Linked DNA regions of Homo sapiens: region 1 is linked to region 2. The links come from fine-mapping of genetic effects on gene expression. A gene starts in region 2. The other region holds a variant in brackets. All regions are shown on one strand. Distances are between the middles of the regions.

Region 1 (11,774 bases), 220 kb before region 2:
GAAGCTGATTCTACCTCAAAGCTGTATGATTCTCTATGTCTAAATTAAATAAATTAAAGTAACGACTCAAATCATTAGCTGGGAAAATAATTTAAACCTTTTTTGCCCTTCAATTAATATAATGTAAATACTATTTTGTAACTCAAATTAGATTTAACTTGTGGCACTCTAGGCATAGTTTAAAAGAGTGGAGTATTTAAAATAGTTTAAAAGTTAATTTTATAGCTCTGTCAAAAAATTACACAATGCATTGATCGAGTTCTAATTGAAGTTATCAAGAGGAAACCAGTTGAACAAGTCAACCATGAATATTTGAGAGCCATGTTTGTCCTTATATATTAAGAAGATGATAATGCTGATTTTAAAAATAAAAACAAATATTCAAGTATATTTACTTAATCTTTACTTCACTATTTGACCAGGGCACAGTGTGGCTTATTTCTCTTTAACAAATATTTCTATTAAAATATAAACATTTTAAAAGATTTTTTCAGCAAAAAAAAAAAAAAAAGTAAGTGAAGTAAGTGGAGCTAGTCAGCTCAGCATAAGAAAGTTTCAGTACAGAGCTATGTACACAGATCAGCCCTGTTCTGCCAAATGTGAGCTCCTAGTAACGACCAGGTCCCGGGGAGACACATGTGAAAGAGGACCCTGCTGTATCCTCAGAAAACAATGGCACCATTTCCTCCATTCTCAATCTGCTTTCTTCATGGCTGGAAAAGAAAGTTTTCCAGTTAAAAATGATTATGTGCAAAGATAGGAAACATTCCATCAACATTAACATATTTAATAATTTATGATTAATTCAAATGCATAAATTTCACATATTACCAGCTCACATGTTTCTTCAACAGTTCATCAGATAACTATCTTGAAAATTTCTGCTTGAAAATTTGTTCCCTTGACCACCCTTTTGCCCTCTCTTAATCAGTCTCCTCTCTCTCTCTCATCTTTTCTTCCTTCTGCTATCAAACTTTTCCTACTGGATCTCAGCCACCGATCCCAGTTCCCTTTTACTTCCTGGTAGTCTGGCTGTTGATCCCTTTGCTCTGAGGCACTCTAGATTTAAGGTCTTGCCAGTGATGTGACCTTCTCTATGTATTTCAAGTACCTATCAAGAGGTAGGTGGTAGAATGGAAGGACCACAAGCTTAGGTGTCAGAGTGTCCTGGGTTTGAACCCTTGTTCAATTTGTTCTATGGGAAGCTCCTCCTCCTCTCTGAGCCTTCATTCCCTTATCTGCACAATGAGGGTAATAATCTACTTCGCAGCGTGTTGTGAGGAATAAATAAGCTGGAAATTTATTGAGCACTTATAATTCACTATGCACTATTCTAAGAACAGGGCTTATCTCATTTAATCCTCACAACAAATCTATGAGATAAGTACAATCACTTCTCTTGGGTTACCAACGAAAAAACTGAGTTCCAGGGTGGTGAAGAAACTAAAAAGATCACACAACTACAAGAGCAGAGTCAGGATTTGAACCCAGATAGACTGAGCTTAACTACTGGCTGTGCTGCCTCTAATATAAAGCACAAAATAAGAGCTTTTACAAGGTTACACTGGCCTGGTGTGGTGGCTTATACCTGTAATCCGAACACTTTGGGAGGCCAAGGTGGGAGGATAGCTTGAAGCCAGGAGTTTGAGATCATTCTGGGCAACATAGCAAGACCCTGCCTCTACAAAGAAAATGTTTTAATTACCTAGGCATGGTGATGCACACCAGTAGTCCTAGCTACTTGGGAAGCTGAGGTAGGAGGATCACTTGAGCCGAGGAGTTTGAGGTTGCAGTGAGCTGCGATCGCACCACTGCACTGTGAGCCAGGCCTCATTCCCCGATCAGTACCCCCCAAAAATGTTACATTGTAGAGTGAAAAGAATGTAGATGCTAGAGGCTAACAGATCTGGGTTTGAATATTGGCTGTGCCACTGACTAGCTGAGAGATTTATGGAAAATCACTTAATCTCTCCTACTCTGCTTCCACGTCTGTAAAAATTTCATTGCTCCACTTTTCTTCAGGCCTATAATATAGGTTAATATAATCATTTATATAAAATGTTCATCATAGTGTCTGGCTCACAGTAAACATTTGATATATGGCATTTGTTAAAATTAGGATAGGAAGTGACATCAGAAGCACAATAAATATTTGTATAAGACAAAGCATTTATTGTCTCCAGCAAGAACCAAAGTAAAAATTCTTACCATAATTTTCCAGGTCTCAGATTCATGTCCAAACTACTGCTTCTGCTTCAACCTTCCTACCAATGACTTCCTAGTAAAACCCCTTAGCTTTTTTTTTTCTTTTCTTTTTTGAGACGGAGTTTCACTCTGTCACTCAGGCTGGAGTGCAGTGGCACAATCTCGGCTCTCTGCGACCTCCACCTCCCGGATTCAAGCGATTCTCCTGCTTCAGCCTCCCAAGTAGCTGGGATTACAGATGTGCACCACCACACCCAGCTAATTTTGTATTTTTAGTAGAGACCAGATTTCACCATGTTGGCCAGGTTTGTCTCAAACTCCTGACCTCAGGTGATCCACCCACCTTGGCCTCCCAAAGTGCTGGGATTATAGGCGTGAGCCACAGTGCCCGGCTGGCCCCTTCACTTTAGAAGGGAGGGTGTCCGCCCCCTGGGCTCTGCTCAATCCTACCAGTGGGTGTTTATAAAGTAGGTTCTGATATAGGTATGGGAACCCTGCATCCCAAATTTTCTAGGGCAATTCTGATTTTCTTCTCCCTTATCAGACTGTATGGCAAACAAAGTGTCCCAAGTTGAGAGTCAGAAAACAGTATCACCAAAAATATAGGCTATCACTTGTTTTCTTGCTCCATGCATCTTTGAAAATAAAATGCTGTCCTTTGTGCCCAGATTATACTAAAAAAAATAACAAAATAAACCTAGGACCTATGCCTCTTGCCATGCCATTAGTCTACAATTTTTTTTTTTTTTTAAGACAAACTCTTGCTCTATCACCCAGGCTGGAGTACAGTGGCATGATCTCGGCTCACTGCAACCTTCTCCTCCTGGGTTCAAGTGATTCTCCTGCCTCAGCCTCTAGAGTAGCTGGGATTACAGGCATGCACCACCATGCCCGGCTAATTTTTTGTATTTTTAGTAGAGACGGGATTTCACCATGCTGGCCAGGCTTGTCTTGAACTCCTGACCTCGTGATCCCCCTGCCTCAGCCTCCCAAAGTGCTAGGATTACAGGTGGGAGCCACGGCACCCAGCCTAGTCTGCTCTTTTTCTCCTAAAATAAGGTGGTGGATTTATGAATACAAAGAGTCTAAGAATGGTGGACTAGGTCTAGCAATGCTGTTCCTCAGCAGCTTTTTGGACAGAAGTCTTTGTAGACCTGTGGCTCTCTCACTTGATGTAGACCCATTTGAATGAATCTCCTTTTGCTTTCTCTTTCTTTAATATTTTTCAGGTACGAGCAGGTGATAATAAATATATGCACTTGAAAGTATTCAAAAGTCTTCCCGGACAAAATGAGGACTTGGTACTTACTGGATACCAGGTTGACAAAAACAAGGATGACGAGCTGACGGGCTTTTAGCAGCATGTACCCAAAGTGTTCTGATTCCTTCAACTGGCTACTGAGTCATGATCCTTGCTGATAAATATAACCATCAATAAAGAAGCATTCTTTTCCAAAGAAATTATTTCTTCAATTATTTCTCATTTATTGTATTAAGCAGAAATTACCTTTTCTTTCTCAAAATCAGTGTTATTGCTTTAGAGTATAAACTCCATATAAATTGATGGCAATTGGAAATCTTATAAAAACTAGTCAAGCCTAATGCAACTGGCTAAAGGATAGTACCACCCTCACCCCCACCATAGGCAGGCTGGATCGTGGACTATCAATTCACCAGCCTCCTTGTTCCCTGTGGCTGCTGATAACCCAACATTCCATCTCTACCCTCATACTTCAAAATTAAATCAAGTATTTTACAAAGTGTGTGTGTGTGTGTGTGTGTGTATATATATACTTTTTTTTTTTTTTTTTTTTTGAGACAGAGTCTCGTTCTGTCACCCAGGCTAGAGTGCAATGGTGTGATCTCGGCTCACTGCAACCTCCACCTCCCAGGTTTAAGCGATTCTCCCATCTCAGCCTCCCAAGTAGCTGGGATTACAGGCACCTACCACTGCGCCTAGCTAATTTTTGTATTTTTAGTAGAGACAGGGTTTTGCCATGTTGGCCAGGCTGGTTTCGAACTCCTGACCCTAGGTGATCTGCTCGCCTTGGCTTCCC[AAAG/A]TGCTGGGATTACAGGTGTGAGCCACCTTGCCCAGTCTATATTTTTATTCTGAAACAAACTTAAACATAGAGAAAAGTTGCAAAAAAAAAAAACCCACTTTTTTTCCTGGACATTTGAGACTAAGTTACTTACCATGATGCCCCATCATCAACAAATACTTCAGTGTGCATTTCCTACAAACAAGGATATTCTCCTGCAAAACTGAAATACAACCATCAAAATCAGGAAATTGCCAGGTCGCAGTGGCTCACGCCTGTAATCCCAGCACTTTGGTAGGCCAAGGCAGCAGGATTGCTTGAGGACAGGAATTTAAGACAAACCTGGGCAACATAGCGAGACCATGTCTCTACAAAAAGAAATTAGAAATTAGCTGGGCATGGTGGTATGCACCTGTAGTCCTAGCTACTTGGGAGGCTGACGTGGGGGGATGGCTTAAGCCCAGGAATTCGAGGCTACAGTGAGCTATACTCATGCCACTGCACTCCAGCCTGGGTGACAAAGAGAGACCGTGTCTCTAAAAAAAAAAAATTAAAAATAAAATTAAACAATTAAGAAATTAACACTGATACACTGGTAGCATCTAATCCCCAGACACCATTCAAATTACCCCAATTGTCCCAATAATGTCATTTATTACAAAAAGATCCAAGCCAGGTGAGGTGGCAAGCACCTGTAGTCCTAGCTACTCAGGTGGCAGAGGCAGGAGGACCTCTAGAGGCCAGGAGTTCAAGGCTATGGTGTGCAATGATCGTGCCCATGAGTAGCCACTGCATGCCAGCCTGGGCAACATAGCAAGACCCCATCCCAAAAAAAAGATCCAATCCAAAATAACTTGCTCCATTTAATTGCCATTTTCCTCTTATTTAATACCTTCATTGAGACATAAATTGAAACATACAACTTACCCATTTAAAGTGTACAAGTGAATAGTTTTATACCACATTCACAAATGCGTGCAGACCTCACAAAATTTTAGAACATTTTCGTCACCTCAAAAAGAAGTCTCATACCTGTTAGCTGTCACTTCCCCAGCCTCCTCCACACATAAGCAACAACTCAACTCCTAAGCAACAACTAATTTACTGTCTAGATTTGCCTGGTCTGGACATTCATACATGTGGAATTATATAATATGTGGTGGTCCTTTGTAACTGCCTTCCTTCACTTAACATAGTTTTCAAAATTCATCAGTGTTGTAGCACGTCTCAGTATTTTATTCCTTTTTATGGACAAATATTCCATTTTATCAATATATCACACGTTGTTTATTAACTAATCAGTTGACAGATATTTAAGTTGCTTTCACCTTTTGACTATCAGGAACACTGCTACTATAAATATTTGTGTACAAGGTTTTGTGTGTACATAGGTTTTCATTTCTCTTGGGTATATACCTAGGAGTAGAATTGCTGGTTCATACGGTAACTAACTCTATGTTTAATTGTTTGAGAAACTTACAGACGGTTTTCTGAAGTGGTCACACCATTTTACATTCTCACCAACAGTGGATGAGAGTTCCATTTTCTCCATATCCTCACCCACACTTGTTATTATCTGAATTTTTTTAAGGTTAGCCATCTTAGTGGATGTGAAATAATAGCTCATTGTGGTTTTGATTTGTATTTCCCTGATGACTAATGCTATTGAACATCTTTTCATGAGATGATTAGCCATTTGTATTAGGCTGATGCAAAAGTTAGTGTAGTTTTTGCCATTTAAAAATAATAACAAAAAACATAATTACCTGTCTTAGTCCATTTTCTGTTGCTTATAACAGAATATCTGAAACTGGGTAATTTATAAAGAAAATGAGTTTATTTATTACAGTTATGGAGGCTGAGAAGTCCAAAGCTGAGGGCCAGGCACAGTGGCACATGCCTGTAATCCCAGCACTTTGGGAGGCCGAGGTGGGTGGATCACCTGAGGTCAGGAGTTTGAGACCAGTTTGACTAACATGGTGAAATTCCATCTCTACTAAATACAAAAAATTAGCCAGGAGTGGTGGTGCATGCCTGTAATCCCAGCTATTTGGGAGGCTGAGGCAGGAGAATCACTTGAACCCAGGAGGCAGAGGTTGCAGTGAGCTAAGATCGTGCCATTGCACTCCAGCCTGGGCAACAAGTGTGAAACCCTGTCTCAAAAAAAAAGAAGTGCAAAGTTGAGGGACCACATCTGGTGAGAGCCTTCTTGCAGGTGGCGACTCTCTGCAGAGTCCTGTCCTGAGGCAGCACAAGCATCATCACATGGCGAGGGGGCTGAGCATGATAGATCAGGTCTCTCTTCCTCTTCTTACAAAGCCACCCGCCCCACTCCCATGATAACCCATTAATCCATTAATCCATGAATGGATTAAGCCATTCATGAGGGCAGAGCCCTTATTATTCCATCATCTTTTAAGGGCCCCACCTCTCAATAGTACCACATTGGGGATTAAGTTTCAACATCAGTTTTGAAGGAGTCAAATATTCAAACCACAGCATATATTCTGAATACAGGCCCCTTATCTGATATATGATTTGCAAATACTTTCTTCTCATTTTGTGGTTATCTTTTCAATCTCTTGATGGCATTCTCTGAAGCACAAAAGTTTTTAATTTTAATGAAGTCCAAATTATCTATTTATCTTTTTGCTCCTCATGCTCTTGGTATCATAACTAAGGATCCTTTGCCAAATCCAAACTCATAGTGATTTACTCCCCTGTTTTCTTCTAAGTGATATGTAGCTTTAGCTCTTACATTTAGGTCGTTTGTCCCTTTTGAGTTAATTTTTGTATATGGTGTGAGGTAAGTGTCCAACTTCATTCTTTTGCATGTGGCTATCTAGTTATCTTAGCACCATTGGTTGAAAAGATTTCTTTACCCCATCGAATTATCTTGGCACCCTTGTTGAAAATCAGTTGATCACAGGCACGAGTTAATTTCTCAACTCTCAATTTTATTCCATTAATCTATATATCTATCCTTTTGTCAGTACTACACTTTTTTGATTACTGTTGCCTTGTAATAAGTTTTACAATTGTGAAGTGTGAGTCCTTCCAACTTTGCTCTTCCTTTTCAAGAGTTTTTTGGCTCTTCTGAATTCTTTGAACTTCCACATGAATTTTAGAATCAGCTTATAAATTTCTACAAAGAAGTCAGCTAGGATTTTCATAGAGATTATGCTGAATCTGTAGATAAGTTTGGGTAATACTGCCATCTTAACAATATTAAGCCTCTGATCCATGAACATAAGATGTTTTCCCAATTATTTCTATCTGTATTTCTTTCAACAATTGTTTTTAGTTTTCAGAGTATATATTTTGTACTTTTTTTGTTAAATTCATTCCCAAATATTTTGTTCTTATTGATGCTATTATAAATGAGATTTTTTGGCTTATGTATTGCAAGTTTATAGAAATACAATTGATTTTTGTACATTGATTTTATATTTTTTAACCTTGATGACCTTGTGTATTGGTGGATTCTTTAGAATTTTCTATATACAAGACCATATCATTGCAAATAGAGGCAGTTTTATTTCCCCCTTTCTAACCTGGATACTTTTTTTTTCTTGCATAATTGCACTGGTGAGAAACTTCAATATAAAACTGAATAGAAGTGATGAGAGCAGGCATCCTTGTCTTGTTCCTGATCTTAGGAGGAAAACATATAATTTTTTTATCCTTTAGTAAAAAGTTAGCTGTGGAGTTTTCATAGATGCCTTGTATTAAGTTAAGAAAGTTTACTTCAAGGCTAAGCGTGGTGGCTCACACCTGTAACCTTAGCACTTTGGGAGGCCGAGGTGGGTAGATCACTTGAGCTCAGGAGTTAGAGACCAGCCTGGGTAACATGGTGAAATCCTGTATCTACGAAAAATACAAAAATTATCTGGGCATGGTAATACACGCCCGTAGTCCCAGCTACTTGGGGAGCTGAGGCCAGAGAATCACTTGAACCCAGAGGTTGAGGCTGCAGTGAGCCAAGATTATGCCACTGCACTCCAGTGACAAAGTGAGACCCTGTTTCAAAAAAAGAAAGTTTCCTTCTAGCTCATTTTTATTATGAAAGGACATTGGATTTTATTACATGCTCTTTCTGCATCTGTTGAAACAGTGATGTGGTTTTGTTTTTTACTCTATCGATATAGTATATTATATTGATTTTTTATATGAAACCAACTTTGCATTTCTGGAATAAACCCCGTATGGTCATGGTATATAATTATTTTTAGACGTGCTACATTCAGTTTGCTAGAATTTTGTTGAGGATTTTTGCATTTATATTCATAAGAGATATTGGTCTACAGTTTTCTTGTTGTTGTTGTTGTTGAGACAGCGTTTTGCTCTGTCACCCAGGCTGGAGTGCAGTGGCACAATCTTGGCTCACTGCAACCTCTGTCTCTCAGGTTCAAGCGATTCTCCTGCCTTAAGCTCCTGAGTAGTCGGGAGTTGGGACTACAGTCATGCACCACCACGCCCGGCTAATTTTTGTATTTTAGTAGAGACAGGGTTTCACCATCTTGGCCAACCTGGTCTCGAATTCCTGACCTCAGGTGATCCACCCTCCTTTGCCTCCCAAAGCATTGGGATTACAGGCATGAGCCACCATGTCCACCCTGTCTATAGTTTTCTTGTGACACCTTTGTCTGGTTTTGGTAGAATTGGTGAATTGGTATTAATTCTTCTTTAAACCTTTTTTTTTTTTTTTTTTTTTTTGAGAAATGGTCTCACTCTGTTGCCCAGGCTGGAGCGCACTGGCCAATCTTGGCTCACTGCAACCTCCATCTCCTGGGTTCAAGTGATTTTCCTGCCTCAACCTCTTAAGTAGCTGGGATTACAGGTGCTCACTACCACTCTGGGCTAATTTTTATATTTTTTCAGTACAGACAGGGTTTCACCATGTTGGTCAGTCTGGTCTCAAACTCCTGACCTCAAGTGATCCACCCACCTTGGCCTCCCAAAATGCTAGTATTACCGGTGTGAGCCACTGTGCCCAGCCTTCTTTAAACCTTTAGTAGAATTCAGCAGTGAAGCCATCTGGGCCTGGGCTTTTCTCTGTGGGAACTTTTTTTATTACTAATTCAATATCCAAACTTATTATAGGTCTATTTAGGTTCACTGTTTCTTCTTGAGTCAGTTTTGGTAGTATGTGTTATTCTAGGAATTGTTCATTTTATCTATGTTATCTATTATTGGCATACAATTGTTCATAGTATTCCTTCATAATCCTTTCATTTCTGTAACATCAATATTAATGTCTCACCTTTCATTTCTGATTCTAGTAATTTGAGTATTCTCTTTTTGCTCTTAGTCTACCTGTAGGTTTGTCAACTTTGTTCATCTTTTCGAAAAAACAACTTTTATTTCAATAATATTCTGTAGTGTTTTTCTATTCTCTATTTTATTAATTTCTACTCTAATCTTTATTATTTCTTTCCCTCTGCTTGCTTTGGGTTGACTTTGATCTTCTATTTTCTGTGTCTTAAGGTAAAAGGTTAGGTTATTGATTTGATATTATCTTTTTTGGCATAAGTGTTGACAGCTATAAATTTCCCTCTAAGCATTGCTTTAGCTGCATTCCATAAGTTTTGGTATGTTGTTTATTTTCATTCATGTCAAAGTACTTTCTAATTTTCCTTTTGATTTTTTCTTGATTTCTTCTGTGACCCATTGATTATTTAGGAGTATGCTGTTTAATTTCTACGTATTTGTAAAGTCTTCCATCCTTGCTCCTGTCGCCTACCCTTGTGACTCCCACCTCCACCGTCCTCACCCCCTCATCTGCCCCCCAATGCTCAGTCTCTTATATCCTGTCCTGGACCACTGCCACTATCCCCCTATGTAAATACCTGCCCTCTCCATGCCAGCTATGCTCCACCATGGTGGGTGGGCACCTACCCATGGAGAAGCCAACTCCAACATCTAGTTTCAGACCATCCAAAACCAATATCTGCTCTCCTTGGCCCTACTTAATGGATTTGGGGCTAAATTGTTAGGGAAGGAGAGAGGAAGAGGAAGTGGAGGGGAGAGTAAAGGAAAAGGAGAGAATGAGAGAGGCAAAGTGAAGAGAAAACTTGTCTTAAACATGCTCGAGCCGGGGCCAGGTGCAGTCGCTCACGCCTGTAATCTCAGCACTTTGGGAGGCCAAGGTGGGAGGATCATGAGGTCAAGAATAGAGACCATCATGGCCAACATGGTGAAACCCTGTCTCTACTAAAAATACAAAAATTAGCTGGACGTCGTAGCGTGCGCCTGTAGTCCCGCTACTCGAGAGGCTGAGGCAGGAGAACCGCTTGAACCCAGGAGGCAGAGGTTGCAGTAAGCCAAGATTGCACCACTGCACTCCAGCCTGGCTACAGAGTGAGACTCTATCCCAAAAAAAAAAGAAAAAAAAAATTGCTCGAACCTGGTGTGGTGGTATGCACCTGTAGCTACTTGTGAGGCTGAGGCAGGAGGATTGCTTGAGCACAGGATTTTGAGGTTGCAATGAGCTATGATTGCACCACTGCACTCCAGCCTGAGTGAGAGAGCAAGATCCTGTCTCTAAAAAAAAAAAAAAAAAAAAGATGTTGTAAAGCAAGCTTGTCCAACCCGCAACCCACAGGCACCCAGGACGGCTTTGAATGCAGCCCAACACAAATTCGTAAACTTTCTTAAAACATTATGAGTTTTGTGTTTTTTTTTAGCTCATCAGCCATCATTAGAGTTAGTGTCTTTTATGTGGGGCCCAAGACAATTCTTCTACCAATGTGGCCAGGGAAGCCAAAAGATTGGACACCCCTGCTCTAAAGTCTCCCTCTGGGCTCTGCACTCTGCTCATCACCCCATTAATGCCACTTGCCAATCCTCTGTCCCAAATAATAATAATAGCTAATATATATTAAATGCTTACCATAGTCTAGGTAGTGTTCCAAAGACTTTACAAATAAAACTTATTTAACTTTTATAACAATCTCATGAGGTAAATATTATTGCTATCCTCTCTTTACAGAAGACTGAGTATAGAGAGGTGAAATTACTTGTGCAAGGCCACCTGACTAGTTAGTAGAGAAGTAAGGATGTGATCCCAGGCTGTTTGCCTCCAGGGCCAATACTCTACCCCTACACTCTACTAACATATGCTCAGAATTCCTTCCCTCAGCTATTCTGACCCCTTGAAGCAGATACGTAAGGGAGTGTTGAAACACTGGTTGTTTTTAAATAACCATTACTAACTCTTAATGCCTCAGAATGGAGAAGCTATCCTATTCATCTGCCTTCAGCTCCTAGCACATAAACAGTCAATAAGTGAACTAAAAGATCTCCACTGGCTGACTAGTATTAGCACTCTGGAGCTCTTAGGTAACAAGAACAACTAGAGACAACTCTACTGGCCCAGTAATAAGAATTCTTTTCTGAGCAATGCAAAAACATAGACACACACACATGGGTAGCTGTATACACAGAGCAGTTGATTAAAGATATAGGAAACACCATAATTAGGGTGATTAGATTTACTTTAACCTGATTTTGGGGTGGAAAGTCTAAATA
Region 2 (12,249 bases):
CAAGTGATCCTCCTGGCTTCAGCCTCTGTAGTAACTGGGATTATAGGCGCCAGCCACCGCCAATGCATCTCAGTGCATCTCATTCTAATTCAGAATGAGATGAGGTTTAGAGATCAACACTTTAAAAGGCCCAAAAGTCACAGACCAAAATGACCCCAAACTCTCAGATAGACTCCAATCTCCAAAAGCTCATGGGGTTTCTCTAGACAGAAGACCTGGGGACATGAGCCTCATCAGCTCTGTCTCTCATCCACCAGCAAGGATCCACTTTTAATTGCCTTTGTCATGGTACAAACCTTAATGTGGAATTTTCAAGTTTAGTAAGTGACTTCTAATCTGATCTTTCTCTATTCCCTTCTTTTCATTCATCCTCTATTACTCTCCTTACCCCAACCCGAAAAAGCAGAATCACTAAATGAGCTGAGAATTAAAATGATTCTGAAAAATCATCCAGCTTCAAGTTGACACTATTTATTAGATTAGCATATTCTTGATTCCCCATTTCTCAAGAAGGGAGAAAGGAGAAAACTTTATTGAGCTATTAAAAGCAGATGAGGATGTCAACTGTTGGTGAACACCCCAGATTTCTTGCTGTTATATAAAGAAGTATTCATGTGCTGATCAAGGTTCATGACGTATACACATTTATGCTTTTTACCATGGAAAAGTCCATCCTCCAGGTCCCCGGGGGAGTCTTTAAATGTTTATTCCCTTTTGCGCTTCAAAGCATAGACTGTAGTTTCCAGATATGGTGGCCCACTTCTAGGAATGAATTAGAAAAGATGCAATAAACATTAGCCAGAATCTTAGGAAATTCGGTAAGAATATACTGTAGGAGGACTGAACATGATTTCTGATCTTGATGAGTTCTTAATTTCCTTGATAACGATGTACACATTGTTTTGCTGTTGTTGTTACTGTTTGCCTTCTACCCTTTCCAAGAGAGGTTCCAGTGGAAATCATAATGGCAGTTCAGAGAAGGGAAAATGCTCTACGACCTGGAACAGGAAAAGCTATATGGAGGAGTTGAGACTAGAGCCTGGTCATGAAGGATGCAGGAGGTTTTTACATATTTAGAAGAAGAGGGTGATAACAAAGTGGTGAGACTGAGAACAGCATTCAAAGAACAGTAAAGAAGACCGAGCTTATGAGTGAGTGAAGCCCCCTGGAGAGCGTTTGAAGAAAGAGGAAATGCCACTAGAGCCTGTGAGGGGGGTGTATTATTGAATTTGTGATAAACATCCTTGACCTAATGATAGGGGTATATCTGGTTAAAAGTCAGAAAATCTGGGAAAAATACTTTGTTATGATTTTCCATCTAATAGGTAGGAATTAAAGATTATGAATTTTTAGAAGACTGATGATGAAAATGCTTAAAGATACAGTTGCCCACACTTGTTGCTATATTTAGGCCTCGAAATGATTTCTTTGTTTGTTTTTTTGTTTGTTTTTTTGTTTTTTGAGTTGGAGTCTCACTCTGTCCCCCAGGAATGCAGTGGCTCGATCTTGGCTCACTGCAAGCTCCGCCTCCTGGGTTCACGCCATTCTCCTGCCTCAGCCTCCTGAGTAGCTGGGACTACAGGCGCCCGCCACCACGCCCAGCTAATTTTTTGTATTTTTAGTAGAGATGAGGCTTCACCGTGTTAGCCAGCACGGTCTCAATCTCCTGACCTCGTGATCTACCCGTCTCGGCCTCCCAAAGTGCTGGGATTACAGGCGTGAGCGACCGCGCCTGGTCGAAATGATTTCTAATGTCTTTGCAATAGAAACATTTTGTACAACCATCTACAGCATCAGAGCACTATTCTTACTCATCAAGGGAAAGCAGCAGGTCTAGTACAATCCTTTGCATTCTAAAATGCAAAGACAAGATGCATTTTTTGCCTCCAGAGGGCACTGCTGTTTTCAAAAAAGAAGGATGACTTCATCTGCTTTGGCCATGGGCTTTTGCTTTAAATGTTGCACCTGTTTCTGTCTTCAGGCCAAGTTTTACAGGCCTATGGATAGCCAAACAAGGAGCATAGTGCCCTAAGCATTCCATTTCTTCCATTTTAAAAACAGAAAAGCCTTCCCAACTTTCCATCACTGGTTCCTACTGTGTTTCCTTCTCTTCATAAGCAGCCAAACTTCTGGAATGAGTAGTGGACTCTCCTTCTGTCCACCTGCCCACTCAGCCTACTATAACCTGGCTCCCTGCCTCATTCCCAGCACCCTTTTGAAACTGCCAGTGGCCAGGCATGGCGGCTCACACCTGTAACCACAGCACTTTGGGAGGCAGAGGCAGGCAGATTGCTTGAGCTCAGGAGTTCGAGACCAACCTGGGCAACATGGCAAGACCTCATCTCTACTAAAAATACAAAAAGTTAGCTGGCCATGTTGGTGCATGCCTATAGTCCCAGCTACTTGGGAGGCTGAGATGGGAGGATCACTTGGTGGGAAGTTCAGGCTGTAGTGAGCTGTGATTGTGCCACTGCACTCCAGCCTGGGCAAGAGGAATGAGACCCTGTCTCAAAAAAAAGAAGAGAAACTGCTCATCAGAATCCCTCATGTGGTTAATGCCAATGGATTATCTTCTATCCATCTTTACTGGACCACTTTCTATAGTATTTCACTCTTTGATTCCTGAAATTCTGCTTTCCTGGCTTCTCCTATGCCATCTTCCCTTGGTTCTTCTATTACCCTTCACTTTGCCTTTACAGGCCTTTTCCCTGCGTTCACTTCCACCATCTCCCTCTTAATTGTTTGCCCCAGGATTCTGTCTAAGGCGTTTTTCATCTCATTCTGCATACTCCCCAGGAGTGATCTCATCCATTTCCATGGCTTCAACTCACCAATTGCAAATATGACTCTTATATCTGCAGTTCTAGGCCATGGCTCTCCTGAGCCCCATTTTTCAACTCCACCTGGAGGTCTCACAGTCCCCTCAAATTAGCCTCTGCAAAAGTAGACCTCTTATCTCCTGGTCCCCAATCCTCCATCCCACCCCCACCAAATCCATACTTTATCTCCTGGATTCTACAGCTCAGTAAATGATAATACCATTTACGTACTCAAATCAGAAATCTAGGAACTTTCCCTGAGTCTTTTTTGTCTCATATCTGGGACCTGACAAACTAAATCACTTTCAAATATGCCCCTTCCTTCCTCGCCCACTGACACTGCCTCACTTCAGAGTCTCAGCAACTTTTGCCTGAGCTGTGGCAATATACTCTTTTCTTTTCTTTTCTTTTCTTTTCTTTTCTTTTCTTTTCTTTTCTTTTTGAGACGGAGTCTTACTCTGTCGCCCAGGCTGTGGCGCGATCTTGGCTCATTGGAAGCTCCGCCTCCCGGGTTCACGCCATTCTGCTGCCTCAGCCTCCCTAGTAGCTGGGACTACAGGCGCCCACCACCACGCCTGGCTAATTTTTTTTTTTTTTGTATTTTTTTTAGTAGAGACGGGGTTTCACCATGTTAGCCAGGATGGTCTCGATCTCCTGACCTCATGATCCGCCTGCCTTGGCCTCCCAAAGTGCTGGGATTACAGGCGTGAGCCACCGCGCCCAGCCATCAATATACTCTTTTCAAAGATTTAAATGTACCTAGTTTGACATTTTATTGTTTGAATAGGTATTACATTTACATGGTTCAAATTTAGAAAATGTAAAAGGTTTCCTCCTGTCTCCGCTGCTAAATTCCCTGTCCAGAGTCAATCAGCGCTTCTCCTGTATTCTTCCAGTGGCATTTTTTACACGAAAGGTAGTAGCTTATACACACACTTCTGCATCTTATTTTTCCCACATAATGTATCCTAGAGATCTTTTCATGTTAGCACATAGAGAGCTTTTTCATTTTTCCTACTGCCCATTGTATTCCATTGTATAGATATACTATTATTATTAAACTGCTAGTCCCCCTATTTATGGGCATTAAAGAGTTCCCTATCTTTTGCTATTGTAAACAAGGCTGTAAAGAACATCTTTGTACACAGGTCACTTCACACAGGGGCTAATATATCAATGGGACAAATTCCTAGAAATGGAACTCCAGAACCAAAAAGTATATGCAGTTGTAATTCTGACAGTATTGCCAAATTGTTCACAGTAAAGACGGGCCCATTTCCAGTCTTACCAGCCATGTGCAAAAACCTTATCTCAGGCCTCTCTGCCGCCACTCATCCCTGCTTGTAAATGTGTCCTCCACACGGTTGTCAGCACCATATTTCTAAAATGCAAATCTGGCAAGTCATTTTCTTGCTTTCCCTGCTTAAAGCCCTTCAGGTCATCTTCACTGCTCTTCAAGGCTTTTCACCATCTAAATATGTCCTGTCCAGGGTGGACTATCAGCCTCACATAGCTACTGAGGCTACATGTGGCCAGTCTGAATCGAGATGTGATGTAAGTATAAGAAAAACACTGGGTTGCAAAGACGTGGTATGATAAAAAGAATGTAAAAATCTCATTACATGCTGAAATGATTAAGTTTTGGATATGTCAAGCTAAATAACATCATTACAGTTAATTTCATCTGTTTCTTTATCCTTTAAAAATTTCCTAAAAATCATTAAAATTAATTTCATCTGTTTCTTTATCCTTTAAAAAATATGGCTGCAAAAATTTTAGAATGAACCTACTGGCTCCCATTGTATTTCTGCTGGACAGTGCCCATCTAGGTAGGCTCTCCCTCCTTCATCCCCTCACCCATCTCCTCTCCTCCCAGGCCCCAGGCCCACTCTGTGCTTCAGACCACAGTGGTCCCTAAGCCTCAGGTGCTTTTCCCCCCAATCCTGTCCTCCCCATCTCGCCGCCACACTCAATTTATTAAGATTCTGCTTGAAACTTCCCCTTGGAGGCCTTGGAGAAGTTTTGCTCCTTGGTTCACAGGTCCGCCTCCCCTCACCAGCCCTTGACATCAGGGCCTTGCTCTGCTCTTTGGGCAGCAAGAAACAATTCAGTGCTGTTGGTTAAATCAAGCAATGGAGGAGAAAAGCCCGCAGAAGCCCGTCTAAAGGGTAGAGTTGGAGGGAGGGAAGGGGTAACAGGTCACAATTACCAGATGAACACATTCAAATTTTCAAAAATGGGTAAGTTTAACATGGATTCAGAATGTGAATTACTTTTTAGGATCAAATAATAGTGGTAACAGCAGTAAGAGTTACAAAGAATAAGAAACACAGGAGAAACTTACTTTCTTTGCATAGTCTACTCACAAGGGAGGCCTGGCCCTGGGACCCGGGTCCGCGCCCGTCCCCCTTCTCCCCGCCCACCTCGAGCCTGCAGGAGAGGGGACCCCGAGGGCCCAGAGGCACCGGACCTACTCACCCGGCAGGCCGCTCTCCTCGGTGCAGACAGCACAGGGAGGAGGGGGAAGCGGCTCTGCCGGGAACAGGGAGGGACCTCCAGGGAAGCGAAACTGAAACTTTGCGCCCAGTCCGCAGGGCGGGCCGCGCCTTTACCGCCCAGCTGCCTCCCGGAGCCCCCGCGCCCTCCCGACGCGCAGAGCCATGGCCTCCCACCTGCGCCCGCCGTCCCCGCTCCTCGTGCGGGTGTACAAGTCCGGCCCCCGAGTACGAAGGAAGCTGGAGAGCTACTTCCAGAGCTCTAAGTCCTCGGGCGGCGGGGAGTGCACGGTCAGCACCCAGGAACACGAAGCCCCGGGCACCTTCCGGGTGGAGTTCAGTGAAAGGGCAGGTGAGCTTCGGGCGGCCAGGCTGCGAAAGCCCTCTGGGGGCCCGGCCCCCGGGTTTCCAGGCGGACCCAGTTCCAGCTGACCTAGGGGAGAGGGCGGGAGAAAGTATGTCACTGTGCGGTGGCGGACAGGGACGGGGCCCTACTGCCAAGAGACTCACTGAGACAGTGAACACTCGGTGGAGGATGGGGCCTCACATGTGCCTGGTGCGGGTCTGGCTGACGGCGCCTTAGTGTGGATGCTTTCCATATCCTCATTCTAACTTAATTTCTCAGCTGTCATCTTCCTTCCCCCAGATGCCTGCCAGCTGCTGTCCTTGTCATTCAGGGATTCCACTTTTATGTTTTAAATAATGGTTCCATTGTTCCATCCATGAACAAAAGGATGTTCCATTTTGTGTTTTTGAGGATTACAAAAGTGATATATGCTCACTATAGAAATAAAAGAGTAAAAAAGAAAACAACCTGAAGATAAACAATGTGACCATTTGGTGTATTTCCTTCCTGCCTTTTTTTATGAATGCCAGCAAACACATGTATATTTACAAAATTCGGAGTCTGCACTTTTGATTCCTGCTGTTGTCACTTACCTGTATAATGAGTATTGAAATGGGAGACTGGGCCGGGTGCGGTGGCTCACGCCTGTAATCCTAGCACTTTGGAGGCCGAGGTTGGTGGATCACCTGAGGCCAGGAGTTCGAGACCAGCCTGGCCAACATGGGGAAATTCCGTCTCTACTAATAATACAAAAATTACCCGGGCATGGTGGTGCGCACCTGTAATCCAAGCTACTCTGGAGGCTGAGGCAGGAGAATCGCTGGAACTCGGGAGGCAGAGAGGTTGCAGTGAGACGAGGTCCTACCATTGCACTCCAGCCTGGGTGACAGAGTGAGACTCCGTCTAAAAAAAAAAAAAAAAAAAAAAAGAAGGAAGGAAGGGAGGGAGGGAGGGAAAGAAGGAAGAAGGAAAGGGGAGACTGGAGACAGTTTTAGAAACATGATGTTTAATCGGTGGACAATGTTCCATTGTCATTAAGCTTTCACTTCTATAGTAAAACTTAATCCGCACACTTTAGAGCTCTTAATAGCTCCCCGACTTTCTCCATCGCCAACCCACCATTCCAGGATGCAGGGAGCAGCCTTACTGGGAGGTGCTGGGGCAGAGTACAGACACAGGAATGAGAGGATTACTTGAAATCTCTCCCATTTTTATGTGTGTATATGTGTGTGTTTAATGTCTCCACTGAAGCTAAGGAGAGAGTGTTGAAAAAAGGAGAGCACCAAATACTTGTTGACGAAAAACCTGTGCCCATTTTCCTGGTACCCACTGAAAATTCAATAAAGAAGAACACGAGACCTCAAATTTCTTCACTGACACAATCACAAGCAGAAACACCGTCTGGTGATATGCATCAACATGAAGGACATATTCCTAATGCTGTGGATTCCTGTCTCCAAAAGGTGAGTATTGAAAGAAGGAGCTGGCTGTGCCTGCGCCTCCTCTCCAGTCACCAGCCTCATGTATTATTGATCCAACACCCATGTGCTGGGCACGTACATGGGAGCCAGGCACTGTTTTAGGCACTGGACACAGAGATGAATATAACAGACAAGGCCCCTGCTCTCAGGCAGCTTATACTGGGGGCCAGGTCATGCACAGAAAGACAGTAGGCAAGTAAACAAAATAAATAAAACCATTTTATTTATTTGGAGAGAAACAGCGCCAGGGCAAGCAAGGGGAAGATGGGGGTGGTGTTACTTCTTTTTTTCCCCCCAAGACAGAGTCTCACTTTATCGCCCAGGCTGGAGTACAGTGGCACAATCATGGCTCACTGCAGAGTTGACCTCCTGGGCTCAAGGGATCCTCTCACCTCAGTCTCCTGAGTAGCTAGGACTATAGGCGCCACTACACCCAGCCAATTTTTTTTTTTTTTGTAGAAACAGAGTCTCACTATGTTGCCCAGGCTGTTCTCAAATTCCTGGGCTCAAGCGATCTGCCCGCCTTGGCCTCCCAAAGTGCTGGGATTACAGTCATGAATTACTGCACCTGGCCTGGTGCTACTTCTAACCAGAAATCAGAGACAACTTGACTGAGGAGGTGATGTTTGGCCTGAAACTTGAATGATGACAAGATTCATTCAACAATAGATATCCACTGCCTACTGTGTTCCAGGCACTGTTATAGGAGCTGGGGAGGCAGCCAGGAACATGGCAGACTCGGCTTCCAGGGACGGCACCTTCTAGAGAGAGAAACAGACAATATTAGTAAACAATAGATATATAATAAAATGTCTGCCAGTCATACCTGCTAGGAAGAAGAATAAGTGACAGACAGTGACAGAACCACCATTTAAAATAGGATGTCTGGAAAAACCTCAAGTGAGGTGACATCTCTAGCCAAGTGGATTTCTGGGCGGAAAGTGTCCTAGAGGGAAGCATAGGTGCAAAGTCCCCAAGAGCTGACATTTTGAGGCCCAGAAGCTTTAAGGAAGCCAGTGTGGTGGGGAGGGCAGTGAGCAATGGAGAGAGGTGCTAGGAACTCGGGAAGGTACCCAGAAGACAGGCCTTTGGGGCTGAAGGTAAGGATTTTGGATTTTTAACTTAAAATGTTAGGGGATTCATCAGATAGTTTTGAGCCAGGGGAGAGGGCGATCTGGTTTATATTTCTAAAGGGTCACTCTGGCTGCTGTTGGAAAACTGAACGTAGAAAGGGGATAGAATGGAGAGTTAGAGCCTGGTTAGGAGGGGTTGCAGTGCGCCAGGTGAAAGATGATAATGGCATGCACTTTGGTGGCCTTGATGGAGGTGTGAGAAATGGCTGGATTCAGGAAACATTTTGAAGATCTAGAGGAAGGATCTTAACATGCAAAGTCCTTGAGAAGGAACAAAACATTAGGAATTTTGCTTTTATATTACAGTCAATTGGTCTCTGTCCTTTTTATCTTAACCTGGCGTGTCTTATATTTGAGCTTCTAAAGGCCAGGGTTTAGAAGGGTCCACAACTTTGCATGCAGTCGAGTGTTTAGTTGAAACAAGAATAAAGGAGGAAGAGTGAAGAAGAGAAAAAATAGTAATAGGAAAAGCCATTGCCCTCAGTTTTATGGCTCCCTTCCAAGTTCACAAACTTTTGTGAGGGCCACAACAACTTGCCCAGAGAGCACAGGTGCCTTCCCTTGACTGCTGTTCCCAAGATCAAACAGCTAGTGGCAGTTGTAGAACACGGATCTCTTGGCCATGGAGCTTTTAGAAATGCTCATGCCCAGGCTCCACTGCAGATTAGTTAACATCAGAATCTCTGGGGATGTGCTTGGGCTTTGGCTGGTTTGTTTTTCCCTGAATTCGCCAGGTGAGTCTTATATGCAGACAGGGCTGAGAACCTCTGGGATGTAGCGTGCTGTATCCTCTAAAAAGGATTTGAGACCAGGCACGGTGGCACATGTCTGTAATCCCAGCACTTTGGGAGGCTGAGGTGGGTGGATCACCTGAGGTCAGGAGTTCCAGGCTAGCCTGACCAACATGGAGAAACCTCGTCTCTACTAAAGATACAAAATTAGCCGGGCGTGGTGGCACATGCCTATAATCCCAGCTACTCAGGAGGCTGAGGCAGGAGAATTGCTTGAACCCGGGAGGCGGAGGTTGCAGTGAGCTGAGATCGCGCCATTGCACTCCAGCCTGGGTAACAAGAGTGAAACTCCATCTTGAAATAAATAAATAAATAAATAAATAAATAAATAAATAAATAGGATTTGAAAGAAGTTGCCCCCACTTGGGAAAGATGTAGTGGTTGTTTCTCTAGTCTCTATGCATTCTCCTGAAGAGAAGATGGTAGGCCTGCATGCTGAGAGGTTTTATTTGTTCCTGTTCCTTTTAAAATTTCAGATCTTTCTTACTGTAACAGCTGACCTGAACTGTAACCTGTTCTCCAAAGAGCAGAGGGCATACATAACCACACTGTGCCCTAGTATCAGAAAAATGGAAGGTCACGATGGAATTGAGAAGGTGTGTGGTGACTTCCAAGACATTGAAAGAATACATCAATTTTTGAGTGAGCAGTTCCTGGAAAGTGAGCAGAAACAACAATTTTCCCCTTCAATGACAGAGAGGAAGCCACTCAGTCAGCAGGAGAGGGACAGCTGCATTTCTCCTTCTGAACCAGAAACCAAGGCAGAACAAAAAAGCAACTATTTTGAAGTTCCCTTGCCTTACTTTGAATACTTTAAATATATCTGTCCTGATAAAATCAACTCAATAGAGAAAAGATTTGGTGTAAACATTGAAATCCAGGAGAGTTCTCCAAATATGGTCTGTTTAGATTTCACCTCAAGTCGATCAGGTGACCTGGAAGCAGCTCGTGAGTCTTTTGCTAGTGAATTTCAGAAGAACACAGAACCTCTGAAGCAAGAATGTGTCTCTTTAGCAGACAGTAAGCAGGCAAATAAATTCAAACAGGAATTGAATCACCAGTTTACAAAGCTCCTTATAAAGGAGAAAGGAGGCGAATTAACTCTCCTTGGGACCCAAGATGACATTTCAGCTGCCAAACAAAAAATCTCTGAAGCTTTTGTCAAGATACCTGTGAAACTATTTGCTGCCAATTACATGATGAATGTAATTGAGGTTGATAGTGCCCACTATAAACTTTTAGAAACTGAATTACTACAGGAGATATCAGAGATCGAAAAAAGGTATGACATTTGCAGCAAGGTTTCTGAGAAAGGTCAGAAAACCTGCATTCTGTTTGAATCCAAGGACAGGCAGGTAGATCTATCTGTGCATGCTTATGCAAGTTTCATCGATGCCTTTCAACATGCCTCATGTCAGTTGATGAGAGAAGTTCTTTTACTGAAGTCTTTGGGCAAGGAGAGAAAGCACTTACATCAGACCAAGTTTGCTGATGACTTTAGAAAAAGACATCCAAATGTACACTTTGTGCTAAATCAAGAGTCAATGACTTTGACTGGTTTGCCAAATCACCTTGCAAAGGCGAAGCAGTATGTTCTAAAAGGAGGAGGAATGTCTTCATTGGCTGGAAAGAAATTGAAAGAGGGTCATGAAACACCGATGGACATTGATAGCGATGATTCCAAAGCAGCTTCTCCGCCACTCAAGGGCTCTGTGAGTTCTGAGGCCTCAGAACTGGACAAGAAGGAAAAGGGCATCTGTGTCATCTGTATGGACACCATTAGTAACAAAAAAGTGCTACCAAAGTGCAAGCATGAATTCTGCGCCCCTTGTATCAACAAAGCCATGTCATATAAGCCAATCTGTCCCACATGCCAGACTTCCTATGGTATTCAGAAAGGAAATCAGCCAGAGGGAAGCATGGTTTTCACTGTTTCAAGAGACTCACTTCCAGGTTATGAGTCCTTTGGCACCATTGTGATTACTTATTCTATGAAAGCAGGCATACAAACAGTAAGTATTTCTCAAGTCCATGGGTTTCTTGCCACTATGCTACGATTACCAGGGCAAAAGAGACTGTCCTGTTGCCTATTAGACAATAGATTTCCCAAGGAATTATCTCCAGGGTCATGTGCAAGGGACTGAAATAGTGGTAAAGGTCACAATGTTTGCTGGTAATTCAAATACCTTTTGTGTCTATTTCTTAAGACAGAGAAAGGGTGGGTGGAGATTATATCTTGAGATGGGGGTATCAGGAAGGTGGACAGTGTTTCCAGCATGAATTCAAGGAAAGAGGAGAAATATGAGTTATTGGGAATATGAGCATAACTTCAATACCTTTCTTGCTTTTGATTTGCTTTATCTACAAATGAACACATCTATACCTATAGTAAAAATTAGACAGGGCACTCTTTTCACATGACATTTTCTTGTTCTCACACAGGAAGAACACCCAAACCCAGGAAAGAGATACCCTGGAATACAGCGAACTGCATACTTGCCTGATAATAAGGAAGGAAGGAAGGTTTTGAAACTGCTTTATAGGGCCTTTGACCAAAAGCTGATTTTTACAGTGGGGTACTCTCGCGTATTAGGAGTCTCAGATGTCATCACTTGGAATGATATTCACCACAAAACATCCCGGTTTGGAGGACCAGAAATGTGAGATCCTTTTGGGATGTAATGGCTGCTCAACAGAGTATAGGGATTATGAAATACGGCAATTTCTGGATGTGGATATAAGTAGACTCTATAGCAGTGGAATTGGTGTTTTGAGAGCTGCTGATCGGGGATGGTAATCTCAAAGACAGAAAGATTGGTCCCCATCAACTTCTACCCTGCCAGCTATAAAGTACTATGGAGTTATTTAAATTTTGCACCAAAGGACAGGGGGCTTTTGAATCCGAGATGAATACTATATAAGCTGATTTAATTTGAGGCGTTGTGTCTATCTGAAGGCTAGATGCTCGGAATGTCACTTTGCTTCCTTTTAAGGTCACCTTTCTTTTTCACCCCTTCCCCCACCAGTCCACAGAGAACCTGAAATCACTTGGCCAATAATATTCTAGAAAAAGTCTAAGTTGTGAGGAGACTATTGGTAGAAACTGTATTATACGAAATCCAATTGTTCTTTATGAAACCCAAATAGGATTCCTCAGACCCTTGGCACTAAAGAAAAAATATAT

The links. PIP is the estimated chance that this variant, and not a neighbour inherited with it, causes the effect.
Region 1: its variant is the best candidate, but not a certain one, in a credible set for the expression of PARP9 in thyroid (GTEx, PIP 0.51).

What each region holds. Positions count from the first base shown.
Region 1 is chr3:122,338,005-122,349,778 of GRCh38, forward strand. CSTA (cystatin A) reads left to right here. Exons shown (of 3, transcript NM_005213.4): 3 at 3,435-3,965. The coding sequence ends at 3,563. Among named protein-coding and RNA genes, the nearest start is that of CSTA, 19 kb to the left of the region's middle. The variant AAAG/A (reference allele first, on the strand shown) is at 4,263.
Region 2 is chr3:122,558,948-122,571,196 of GRCh38, forward strand. It overlaps PARP9 (poly(ADP-ribose) polymerase family member 9), which reads right to left and starts at 5,353. Exons shown (of 11, transcript NM_001146105.2): 1 at 5,298-5,353; 2 at 659-762. The coding sequence starts at 673. It overlaps DTX3L (deltex E3 ubiquitin ligase 3L), which reads left to right and starts at 5,391. Exons shown (of 5, transcript NM_138287.3): 1 at 5,391-5,666; 2 at 6,912-7,123; 3 at 9,542-11,077; 4 at 11,508-11,725. The coding sequence starts at 5,480. LOC105374071 (a long non-coding RNA gene) reads left to right here. Exons shown (of 5, transcript XR_001740869.2): 5 at 943-1,023. RefSeq lists a silencer at 5,139-5,238 and an enhancer at 5,279-5,398.